2 separate regions of the Homo sapiens genome follow, and region 1 is linked to region 2. Evidence: fine-mapped expression QTL. A gene starts in region 2. The other region holds a variant in brackets. All regions are shown on one strand. Distances are between the middles of the regions. Region 1 overlaps ADAM19 (ADAM metallopeptidase domain 19). Region 2 holds the start of ADAM19 (ADAM metallopeptidase domain 19).

What was found. PIP is the estimated chance that this variant, and not a neighbour inherited with it, causes the effect.
Region 1: its variant is the best candidate, but not a certain one, in a credible set for the expression of ADAM19 in thyroid (GTEx, PIP 0.73).

What each region holds. Positions count from the first base shown.
Region 1 is chr5:157,496,345-157,501,717 of GRCh38, forward strand. ADAM19 (ADAM metallopeptidase domain 19) reads right to left here. Exons shown (of 23, transcript NM_033274.5): 13 at 3,229-3,318; 14 at 550-745. Among named protein-coding and RNA genes, the nearest start is that of NIPAL4, 39 kb to the left of the region's middle. RefSeq lists enhancers at 151-652, 3,657-3,706, 3,767-3,826. The variant T/C (reference allele first, on the strand shown) is at 3,090.
Region 2 is chr5:157,572,794-157,578,166 of GRCh38, forward strand. ADAM19 (ADAM metallopeptidase domain 19) reads right to left here and starts at 2,982. Exons shown (of 23, transcript NM_033274.5): 1 at 2,810-2,982. The coding sequence starts at 2,903. LOC124901121 (a long non-coding RNA gene) reads left to right here and starts at 2,186. Exons shown (of 2, transcript XR_007059018.1): 1 at 2,186-2,577; 2 at 3,487-3,817. RefSeq lists enhancers at 1,678-2,207, 2,444-2,523, 4,381-4,996, 4,997-5,373 and a silencer at 2,694-3,133.

The DNA.
Region 1 (5,373 bases), 76 kb before region 2:
GCAGTAAACATCATAGTAAATATATCCTCACATACATGTGCAAGTGTTAGCTGCATTTCTAAGTATATCTCCAAATTGCTTTCCATAGTGGTTATATCTACCTGTTTCTTCACACCCTCCACAACACTATATCATTATTATTGTTGTTATATTATTATTATCTTAACTTTCAGTCTTTGCAATCTGATATATGAAAAATCTCACCTCATCATAATTATACTTTGCTTTCCCTTAATATGACTGAGATTAAACGTCTTTTCATAGCTTAAGGGCCATTTGCATTTGCTTCTCTGTCTCCATCCTCTGCTCATTTTTCTTTTGGATTACTCTTATTCAATTGTCCACTCTGAGAAATAAAAGCATCAAGGGACTGGGAAGGAACACTGTCCTCTGGTTCTCCCTGAACATCTACCCTGAGTCAAGGGGATGAAAGAGGTAGTATCTAGAGGTGCCATTTGAAGCCAAGATTCCAAACTACCCTGAGGGCCAGGGGAGGCTGGCTGGGAAGTGGTGGGCTGGGGAGAGCCGTGCTCCCCAGGAGAGCCTTACCGGGTCCCCACAGCTGCTGGCACTGCTCCTGGTAGGTGAGGCACATGCCGTTGTAGCAGTAGGCCTGGCCGCCCTCACAGGGGGTACCATCCATCTGGTAGAAGTTGGTAGGGCAGTGGGGAGACTTGCCCGTACAGAACTCCGGGAGGTCACACTGCCTGGCCTGCTCGCGGCACAGGGTCCCAGGAGCCAACAGCTGAGCCAAGGAATGAGAGGAAAACACAGTCAATCTCCTCCCCACCCTCAACCCTGTTGCCCAAGGGCTCATAAGGATCACTCTCATAGAACAGAATTTTCCATTACCATGATTTCACAGCACTTTTTACATGACCTCATTAGCCCAAACCACCTTCAGCCTTCTCATGTGAATACTGACAGAATTTCAAGCTGTTTTCACAAATGCTAACTCACTTTCTCTTCATAGAAGTCTTAAGAAAGAGGCAAGAAATAATACCTATACAACAATTTACAGTTTCCTACATGCTTTAGTAATAGCAGCTACTTTTATGCAGCTCCCACTTAAGTGTCCAGTACAAATATGACTTCACTTAGTTTTCATGACAGTCCTGTGTGATATAATTATCCCTTCTGCAGATGATAAAATCTGTAGGCTTAAAGAGGTTAGACGATGCATCCAAAGACTCATAGTAAGTGGCAGAGGAGCCAGGCCCACTAATACACACACACACACACACACACACACACAAAACTAGCATTCACATAACATCTGTGAGTTTACAAAGCACCTCAGCAATAATATATCCCCACTATGGGGCCAGGCACTGGGCTGAGTGTGTGACATACACGTATCTCGTGGGATCCTCACAGCTTCCATGGGATAGATACTGCTATTTGTCCCACTTTGCAGATCAATAAGTTGATCAACAGCACACCTGGGGCAAAGGGCGAAGAGTCTTACAGCCTCCCTGGGTAGTCGGTGTTACTAATACTCTTTCCATTTTACAGATAAAGAACCTAGGCTCAGAGAGTTAATAGGTTGCCCCAAATCACACAACCAGGGTTTGAAGTCAGTCTTGGACACCAGGGAATCCTTTCTGAGGCTCAAACGGAAATTCTTGTGTGGAGTGAAGGGGTCCACTCCATGCTTATGCTTAGGCCTTGGGCCAAGACTGGAAGAACTTGACCCAGCACAGCCTCCCAGGGGGACGCACAGCCAAACCAGATGCCGTGCACATTCCGAGAGCCAGGCAAGGAAACCAGTGACTGAGAACAGACCCCCTCCCCTGCTCCTGGGCCACTCCTCCCACCCACAGGGTCCTTCCAGGAGAAGGCAGACAGGCTTCTCCACCGGCCACTCTCAGGCCAAGACTGGGCCAGCTGAGCAGCTTGCTGAGAGTGGATGCCCAGTCGCAAGTGTGGGCATGGGTGGTGTATGCAGGAGGAGGCTGCAGGACACACCTCTGCCATCCAGAGGCAGGTGGAGGCAAAGAGGACCTGCCCCACAGCCAGCCTGCCTGGGCACACATCCCAGCTCCTTAACCGGCAGCGGGGCCTTGGGCACCTGCTGTGTAACCTGTGTGTGCTCACTCACCCACAACTCAGGATAATAACCCACTAATGGGTGATTAAACGTGAGTTAGAACTAAGTATGTGAATGGTATCTGGCCCCTAACGAGCACTCAGCAAGTGCTAGGCAGAAGCCCAGGCCCACAGTTCCTGCCTAAAATGATGGGGCCAGATGGGGTTCAGGCTTTTCAGATTTAGAAAGCAGATATTGTAATACATAGGTCCATATGTACATGTGTGTACATATATAATTACACATGTGTGTATGTATATATATATATATATATATATGGATATGGATAATTACATATGTCCGCATATATAACTACATATGTATATTACATAACCCCCCAGCAAGGCTGGGGATAACACCTTCTGATCAAACATATTAATATTTCTGTAATGCAATATAAATATTCACTTTAGGAGTGATTTTTTTTTAAAAAGACTATAATTCATCTCATGTCAATTCAGGTCAAGTTTTGCCACCAAATGTGTTTACATTTTTTTTCAGCTTTTAGAACTCCCTTAATTTCAGAATTGTGGAAGAGAGATTGTGGTTCTACGGTAACACTAGCAGCAACAGACAATTTATCTCTCACATCAATATTAGGAATGTGGGCACCAGAGTCAGGGAAAGCTGGATTCAGTCCCTTCCTGACTGCCTGATTCCAGATAAACCTCTTATCCCCTATAAGCTCTAGTTTCCACATCTTAAAATAAGGATAGTCACATATATTTTATGGGGTTTTTGTGAGGAGAGAATGAGATAACGTACATAAAATTCCCAGCACAGTGCCTGGCATCTACTAAGAGGTCCATTAATGTCAATACAAATGATGATAATTATTATTGTTTATGAGCTCAATAAAATCAAGCCCACTCTCTCTGGATACTTCTTTAAAAAAGAAAAAAAAAAGTACCATTTCCAAAGAAGCGCCACCCTCCTCTGGGATGATCTGAATTCAGTGAGGCCCAGTATAGGAATAGTAAATTTTATTCAAGGCACCTTT[T/C]CCGCTCTGTGTTTCTGAAACTCTGTTGCCATCACAGCCCCAGGATGGAGGCAAATCCCCAGCCATCCACCCCAGCAGAGCAGTCCTGTGGTCCCACTGTCAGGCCAGGGCCCAAGGCGTGGAGAAAAGGGCCACTTACCTTACACTGGTGGCAGCAGGAGCCGTGAGCACACTCCGCCCCCGGCCTCAGGGTACAATTAGAGGCATTGCAGCAGGGGTTGTTACATTCCTGGGGAGGCAGTGGGGTGGGTGTGAGTGGGGGAGGGCCTTCACCACCCCCAACATTTTCCCCACCCTTGCCCACACACCCCTGGAACCCCAGCTCTCTAGCAACTATCTCTTTTTTTTTTTTTTTTTTTTTGAGAGGGAGTCTCGATCTGTCACCCAGGCTGGAGTGCAGTGATGCAATATCTCGGGTCACTGCAACCTCTGCTTCCTGGTTTCAAGCGATTCTCCCGCCTCAGCCTCCGAAGTAACTCAGACCACAGGCACACCCCACCACACCTGGCTAATTTTTGTATTTTTAATAGCGATTGGGTTTCGTCATGTTGGCCAGGCTGGTTTCAAACTTCTGACCTCAAGTGATCCACCTGCCTCGGCCTCCCAAAGTGCTGGGATTATAGGCATGAACCACCGCACCTGGCCTGGAAACTTTTGACCTCAAAAATCATGTGACAGCTTCGTCACTAAGCTAATGTGTACTTGTCACAAGAACCATATATATGCACAATCATTAGTAACATGACTTGGACACAGCTACATCTTTTTTTGAGACAGTCTGCAACCTTCTCCTCCTAGGTTCAAGCAATTCTCATGCCACAGCCTCCCAAGTAGCTGGGACCACAGGCACACACCACCATGCCCCGCTAGGACACAGCTACATTTTGAGTATGAATATTTTTCAAGGCATTTTCTACACACATACATATATATTTATACTTACTTTACAAAATCATAGTATCCACAGTGTTTTTTTACTTAATATAACATGCGTATTTCTCCCTGTAACCATGTAGTCTTCTAAAATGGACTTTTTAGCAGAGTATATGGAAATTTTATGTTTTGTTTTTCTAATCCCCAGTAGAACATCCAGACACCCTGTCTTTCATGGGTGCCCTCCTGCCCCCAACCCTCCTAGGCTTTCTTATCTCATGAAAAGGGGCTGCCGGTGCAAGAGTCTGCTGGAACAACCTCTCCAAACAGTTTATGTCAACTCCTGGGTCTGTTTCCTTAGATTTTTTTCTCCATCTGCTTCTCTTCCTAAGCCCTTCCTGGCCTGGACCTTTCTGGAACAGAAGATCTCCATGGGTTCCTTGCTCTCCCCCAGCCTGAGATTTTTAAAAGATTATGAGGCGTTCCAGTGACCCTGAGCGTCCTCATCACACTCTTACAGTATTAACAGGCCAATCCATCAGCCATTGATGAAAAGTGTACGGGGCTCCACAGATCTCTCCACCACAGCCTTATGAGGCAGCCTTGACCCCATTCCACAGACAGGGATGCTGTGGCTCAGGCAAGTCCAGTAGCTGGCCGAGGGACACACCTGCTGAATTCAAGTCAGGTCTGCCTGAGGCCTACCTCATGTTTATCAACCTTATACCCCTAACTGTCCAGGGCTCTAGCATATTGGAGAGCCACATCCCATCCCCTGACCACAGACACCTGTCCACCTGTCTCCCCTAAGAGAAGGAATAGAACACTTTCCTCCCATTATTCTCCCACCATGTTGGGCTCCAGGAAGACCTGTATTCCTGCCTTCCTAATGTACCATATTTCTTCCCACGAAGGCACAGGCTCCCCTTCCACCTGAAATGTGCCTTCCCTCCTGCGTGCCTCACTAACTCCTAATGCAGCCTTCAGATATGGGCTCCAGGTCACCTCCCACACAAGCAAGGAGGTTCCCCCTCACATTATATATGTTCAGAGCACTGTGTCATTTGTCTTCCTAGCACTTGCCATGGACTGTACATATATTCTTTTGCAATTATTTCAATATGTGTTTCTCCCACTAGACTATCAGCTCCCCAAGGACAGGAACTATGTCATTTTTGCCACTCATCCTAACCCTAGGACCAGACACAGTAGCCCACACTCAGTGTGCCTGTTGAATGAGCAACTGCTCAGAACCTAAGCCAACTGGCCATGCCCACTCTCAGGCCATTCCTCAACCCCAGTGGCCCTCCATGTTCATACCACTCCCTCCTTTCTGATGGGTCTGTGTTGATCTCTCTGGGCTCATGGTGGTGGGGGTGGCATCCTTGACTAGTTCTTGTTTTATTCTGAA
Region 2 (5,373 bases):
AATCTCAGCACTTTGGAGGTCCGAGGTGGGCGGATCACCTGAAGTCAGGAGTTTGAGACTAGCCTGGCCAACAAGGTGAAACCCTGTCTCTACTAAAAATATGAAAATTAGCTGGGTGTGGTGGCGCATGCCTGTAATCCCAGCTACTCAGGAGGCTGAGGCACGAGAATCCCTTGAATCTGGGAGGCCAAGATTGCGCCAGTGCACTCCAGCCTGAGTGACAGAGCAAGACTCCATCTCAGAAATAAAAAAAAGACAAGCATCGCTCTTGCCCTGGTGGCTCTGATAAGTCTATATTATTTTAAACAAAAAGGAATTCTATAATATTTAATGGAGCATTTAATGGAATTAAATGATATCTACGATTGTAAAAAAATAGTGAAAGCAATCTAAAATCTCACCAAAAGAGGAACATAGTACATGTTAAGAAAAGGTCTCCAAAACTTGGAAATAAGGCAAGAGCAAGCAAGATGTCTTCTCAATGTTGTATCAGAGCATTGTTTAACAGACTCACCCATGGATTACTGCATTATCTAGGGGAATGTACCATTGACTTTTTATTTACCATTGATTAAAAGCTACACTCTGTGAAGTTATATAATCTATATATATCTATAGAATTCTGTCTGACAGAGATGTAAGTGATTTCAGCATAGTAAAAAGATAACCTGGCCAGGCACAATGGCTCACGCCTGTAATCCTAGCACTTTAGGAGGCCGAGGCGGGCGGATCACCTGAGGTCAGGAATTTGAGACTAGCCTGGCCAACATGGTGAAACCCCGTCTCTACTAAAAATACAAAAACTAGCCGGGTGTGGTGGCACATGCCAATAAGCCCAGCTACTCAGGAGGCTGAGGCAGGAGAATAGCTTGAACCCAGGAAGCAGAGACTGCAGTGAGCCCAGATCGTGCCACTGCATGCCAGCCTGGGCAACAGATAGAGACTCTGAAAAAAAAAAAAAGAAAGAAAAGAAGGAATGAAGGAAGGAAATTAAAAAAGAAAGATAACCAAGAATTATGGTTTGCTTCATGGGGCATCCACCATTTCTGCATCTGCCCTGGGCCACATGATTTCAACATTCTTTCTCCAATGCTTGTATCACCCCTTTCTAATGCTCCCTGAATCAGCTTTACTCTCCTGTTTGCTACCTCATTAATGAGTTGAATAAATCTTGGCCACATTTGTATGAGTCGTGTTTTTAACTTTTGAAAACTTTGTATAGAGTCATTAAAATCATGTTTTACAGAGAATTTGATGATGTGGAAAACGCTCATGGTGTGAAGTGAAAAACGCAAGACACGAAACTGTACTTATGGGTATGGTTCCAATTTTATCAATATATATCCATAGGAACACACAAAGAATGTGGAGGGGAAAAAAAACAAAATATCAACAGCAACTGTGGATTTGGGGGTTGCAGATCATTTTCTTTTACACTTTTCGTTATTTCCCAGATATTCTACAGCAAGTGTTCTCCAAGGACTCAAAACTCAGAGAAGGCGCCTGTGCTAGGAGCAGTAACTAGCTTTCCTTGTCTTTCTTCATGCTTTTCTCCTGCACTAAGCACTGACACAGGCCTGGTGCTACCCTAGAACCTCCTCTGTGCCTCAGTTTCCCCTTCGGAACAACAGCTCAAAGGGCGGTTCCTTTGAGCCCTTTGGGAGGACCGCCCGACCTCGGCCCCTGGAAGTTCCGAACTGTCGGAAGAGCTCTCAGCCTCTGGGTTTGAGGCGGCCCGGGGGTCCAGCCAGCCCACCCTCGCTCCGCCGGTGCTCGCTCTATTTGAAAACGCTGACTGTTGGTCCCCCAAGCAGCAGTCTGGAGTCAGCCCAGCCCGTCTGCAGCGGTGGAGCCAGGGCTAAGCCTTCTCCGGTCATAATGAGAGAACCCGGGCACCGCCCCCCGGGACCAAGCCTTCCGCGAAATCTGCTTATAGCCCCCGAGGGATGGAGCCGGGGAGGGGATTGGTGTCTGGGAAACTAGTCCTGAGAAACACGGACATCACCCGGCATCTTAGCTGGAAACATCGAGTCAGACCCCTTCGCTTCACAGAAGGGGAAACTGAGGACCAAAGAAGGCGGCCGTCGGGTTGGCGTGGAAAGAGAGCCCTGGTTTCCAGTGCCACCGCGGACCTCAACCCGTGGCGTGGCCTTGGGCAAGTCCTTTCCCTTTTGTGGGCCTCGGTTTCCCCATCTGTGAAATGGGTGCGTTTGACTTGGCCTTCAGTAGGGCTCCTGCCAGCTCGGGGATCCGAAGTGTGTGGCTGCAGATACCCAGCGAGCCATCCCCTAGCCAAGGCTACCACAGTCTGCCGCGGGCATTTTATGTCCTACCCCACCAGTGTGGCAGGCACCGAGCCTGGTCCCAGGAAGCCGCTCCCAGGCCACACGGGCAGGGCGCTCGGGATGCTCGGCGTTGGCGAGTGCAGCGGGCGGTAGAGAGAAAGACAGAGAGAGAGGCGGAGCGGACACGAGGGACCGTGAGAAAACGGAGGAGGATAAGCCCCGAGAACGGCGGAAAGAGAAGCCAAAAGCAGAAAAACAGAGGAAGGAGAAGGCGAGAAGGGAAGGCTAGCCAGTGAGCGGACCGGCTGTTTTCTGGCTGCGCCGGGTTTCCCCGACCTCTGCCACCTCCCAGGGCGCAGAACGTGGGAACAAAGCCCGGGCTCCCAGGCTGGGGACGGCGGGGGCGCAGGCCCCGCGGAGTTGCGGGAGGCGCAGGGGTCGCGGTCCCAGCGCTCCGGACCCGCAAGGCTACTCCCAGGTCTCCGGGCCACCCAGCCTCCATCCCCCCGCGCCTGGCCACTTACTTGTCCATCCAGGCTCCCGCGCCGCCCGCGGCCGGAGGGGCTGCAGGGCAAACGCCAGCAAGCAGAGCCGGGCGGCGCCTGCGCCCCCTGGCATGGTGGCGGCGGCCCTTAGCGCTCGGCGCTCACACGCCCTCAGCCATACCTGCCCACTGCCCGGCGGTGGAGGCGCGTCTGGAACCCCCCGGCTCGCCCCGCGCCTCCCCACCCGGCTCCCAGCCCTCTGCCGAGACGCTCCGCCTCCAGCCCCGCGGGCCTCCGCCAGGGGATGGAGGAGGGGAGGCTCCAGCCCGGAGGGGGCTGGAGGGAGGGGCCGGGGAGGAGCTGGCGAGACTCGGGGGAGCGGGGCTGGCTCAGGTGAGGGAGACCGCGGGGAAGGGAGAATCCGAGCCCCCCAGGAGGAGGGATTTGTGGTGGACGCGGCCTGTAGAGGGTCGGGGACTCGGGCTTCTAGGAGTTAAACTGGACCCCTCTCCGCACAGCGGCCCGTTTACTGTCCCGCACTGTGCCAGACGCCTTGGGTGACACTCAGAGGTGATTCACCCAGCGCCGTCCCCCGGGGGCCGCCACTCTCGGAGACAGGCTCAGAAAGAGTTAACCCAACCGCCAGGCACAAAGAACTAAGTGCTATATGGACTTCTTTTTTTTTTTTTTTTTTTTTTTTTTTTTTTTTTTTTAAGCAGGACACAAATCCAGGAGCCATTCCTTCTGCCTGGGAGGAGGGAGTGATGAAGACCAGAGGAATCCCAGAGGAGAAGCCATCTGAGATCGGGAGGAGGAGAAATGGAACATCAGGCGGAGGAAACAGCCCAGACAATCGCACTGGGACGTGAAAACCCTTGGGCTGCATGCGGGGAGAAAACCAGAATTGGGGATGGTTAGGGTTTTGGAGGGAAACACAGGGACATGTGACCAAAAATAATAATAACTACTGTTACTTATTGAGGACTTTCTATGTACTAGAATAAGAAAATCATGATAGCTAAGACTGATAAAACGCTAAGTGTCAAACGCTGTCTTCAGCACTTTACACATATTCACTTATTTAATTAATCGGAGAAAATAACTTTTATGAGCCAGGGACTCTGCATACATTATCTCTTTTCATTAGCCCAGTAATCCCATGGGGTAGGTACTAGTACTATCCCTGTTTTAGAAATGAGGAAATCAAACCTGAGAGGCTAAACCACTTGCCCAAGATTACACAGCTAATGTCAGTGCCTAGATTCAAACCCACATCCGTATAACTCCAGAGCCTGATGCAACACACCTTATTTTCCAGGTGGAGAAACTGATAATGAGAGAGAAATGACTTGCCTAAGATCCCTCAGCAAGTTTTAGCAAAGCCTCGTTGTAGAATCCCAGCCTCAAACCTCGTCCATCTGTTCCTTTTTCTGAGCCTCTTTAGTCAAACCCAGGTTGACTAGAGAAGTGCTAAGTGTTGGAGAGGGCGAGGCACTCCTGAAGATGATGGGTAGGTAGGTCTATCAAACCCTACTCATGGGCACCCATGAGGGAAATCAAATAAGTGGTTCTGGCCATTAATGTCGTTTGGGACTCCGTTAGTCTCCAGCTGCTGTAAAATTCGTATCTTTCTGTGAACCCGAAATATCTGAGATAGGTCTCAGTCAATTTAGAAGGTTAATTTTGCCAAGCTTAAGAACGTGCTCATGACACAGCCTCAGGAGGTCCCAACATGTGCCCAGGGTGGTGGGGGTGTAGCCTCCTTTTATATATTTTGGGGAGACATGAGACATCAATCAATATGTGTAGGATGTACATTGCTTCCGGTCCGGTAAGGCAAGACAACTCCAAGCTGCAGAAAGGGTGGTGCTTCCAGGTTATAAGTAGATAAGAAACAGAAGAGGTTACATTCTTTTGAGTCCTTGATCAACCTTCCACTGAATACACAATTTAGTCTAGCTCAGTGAATCTACATTTTTACATAAACAATAGGGCAGAAGAAGCAATCAGATATGCATTTGTTTCCGGTGAGCCTCAGAGGGATGGCTTTAAATTCTGTCTGTCCTTTGTCCACAAGGAATTTCCTTGTGTGAAAATTGTGAGGAAGGTATGTAGCTGTTTCTCTTTGTAGCTATCTTATTTAAGAATAGGATGGTGGCCTGGCATTGTGGCTTAGGCCTGTAATCCCAGCACTTTGGGAGGCCAAGGCGGGCAGATCACCTGAGGTCAGGAATTCGAGACCAGTCTGACCAATGTGGCGAAACCCTGTCTCTACTAAAAATACAAAAAAAATTAGCCAGGCGTGGTGGCACACCTGTAATCCCAGCTACTCAGGAGGCTGAGGCAGGAGATCGCTTAAACCTCGGAAGGGGAGGTTGCAGTGAGCCAAGATCACGCCACTGCACTCCAGCCTGGGCGACAGAGTGAGACTCTATTTCAAAAAAAAAAAAAAAAAGAAGAAAAGAATAAAATGGGGGACAGGTTTGCCTGACATTGTTCCCAGCTTGACTTTTTCCTTGGCTTAGTGATTTGGGAGTCCTAAGATTTATTTTCCTTTCACACTTCTCGCGTGCAGAATATATCCACCCCATCCCAGCAGCCCA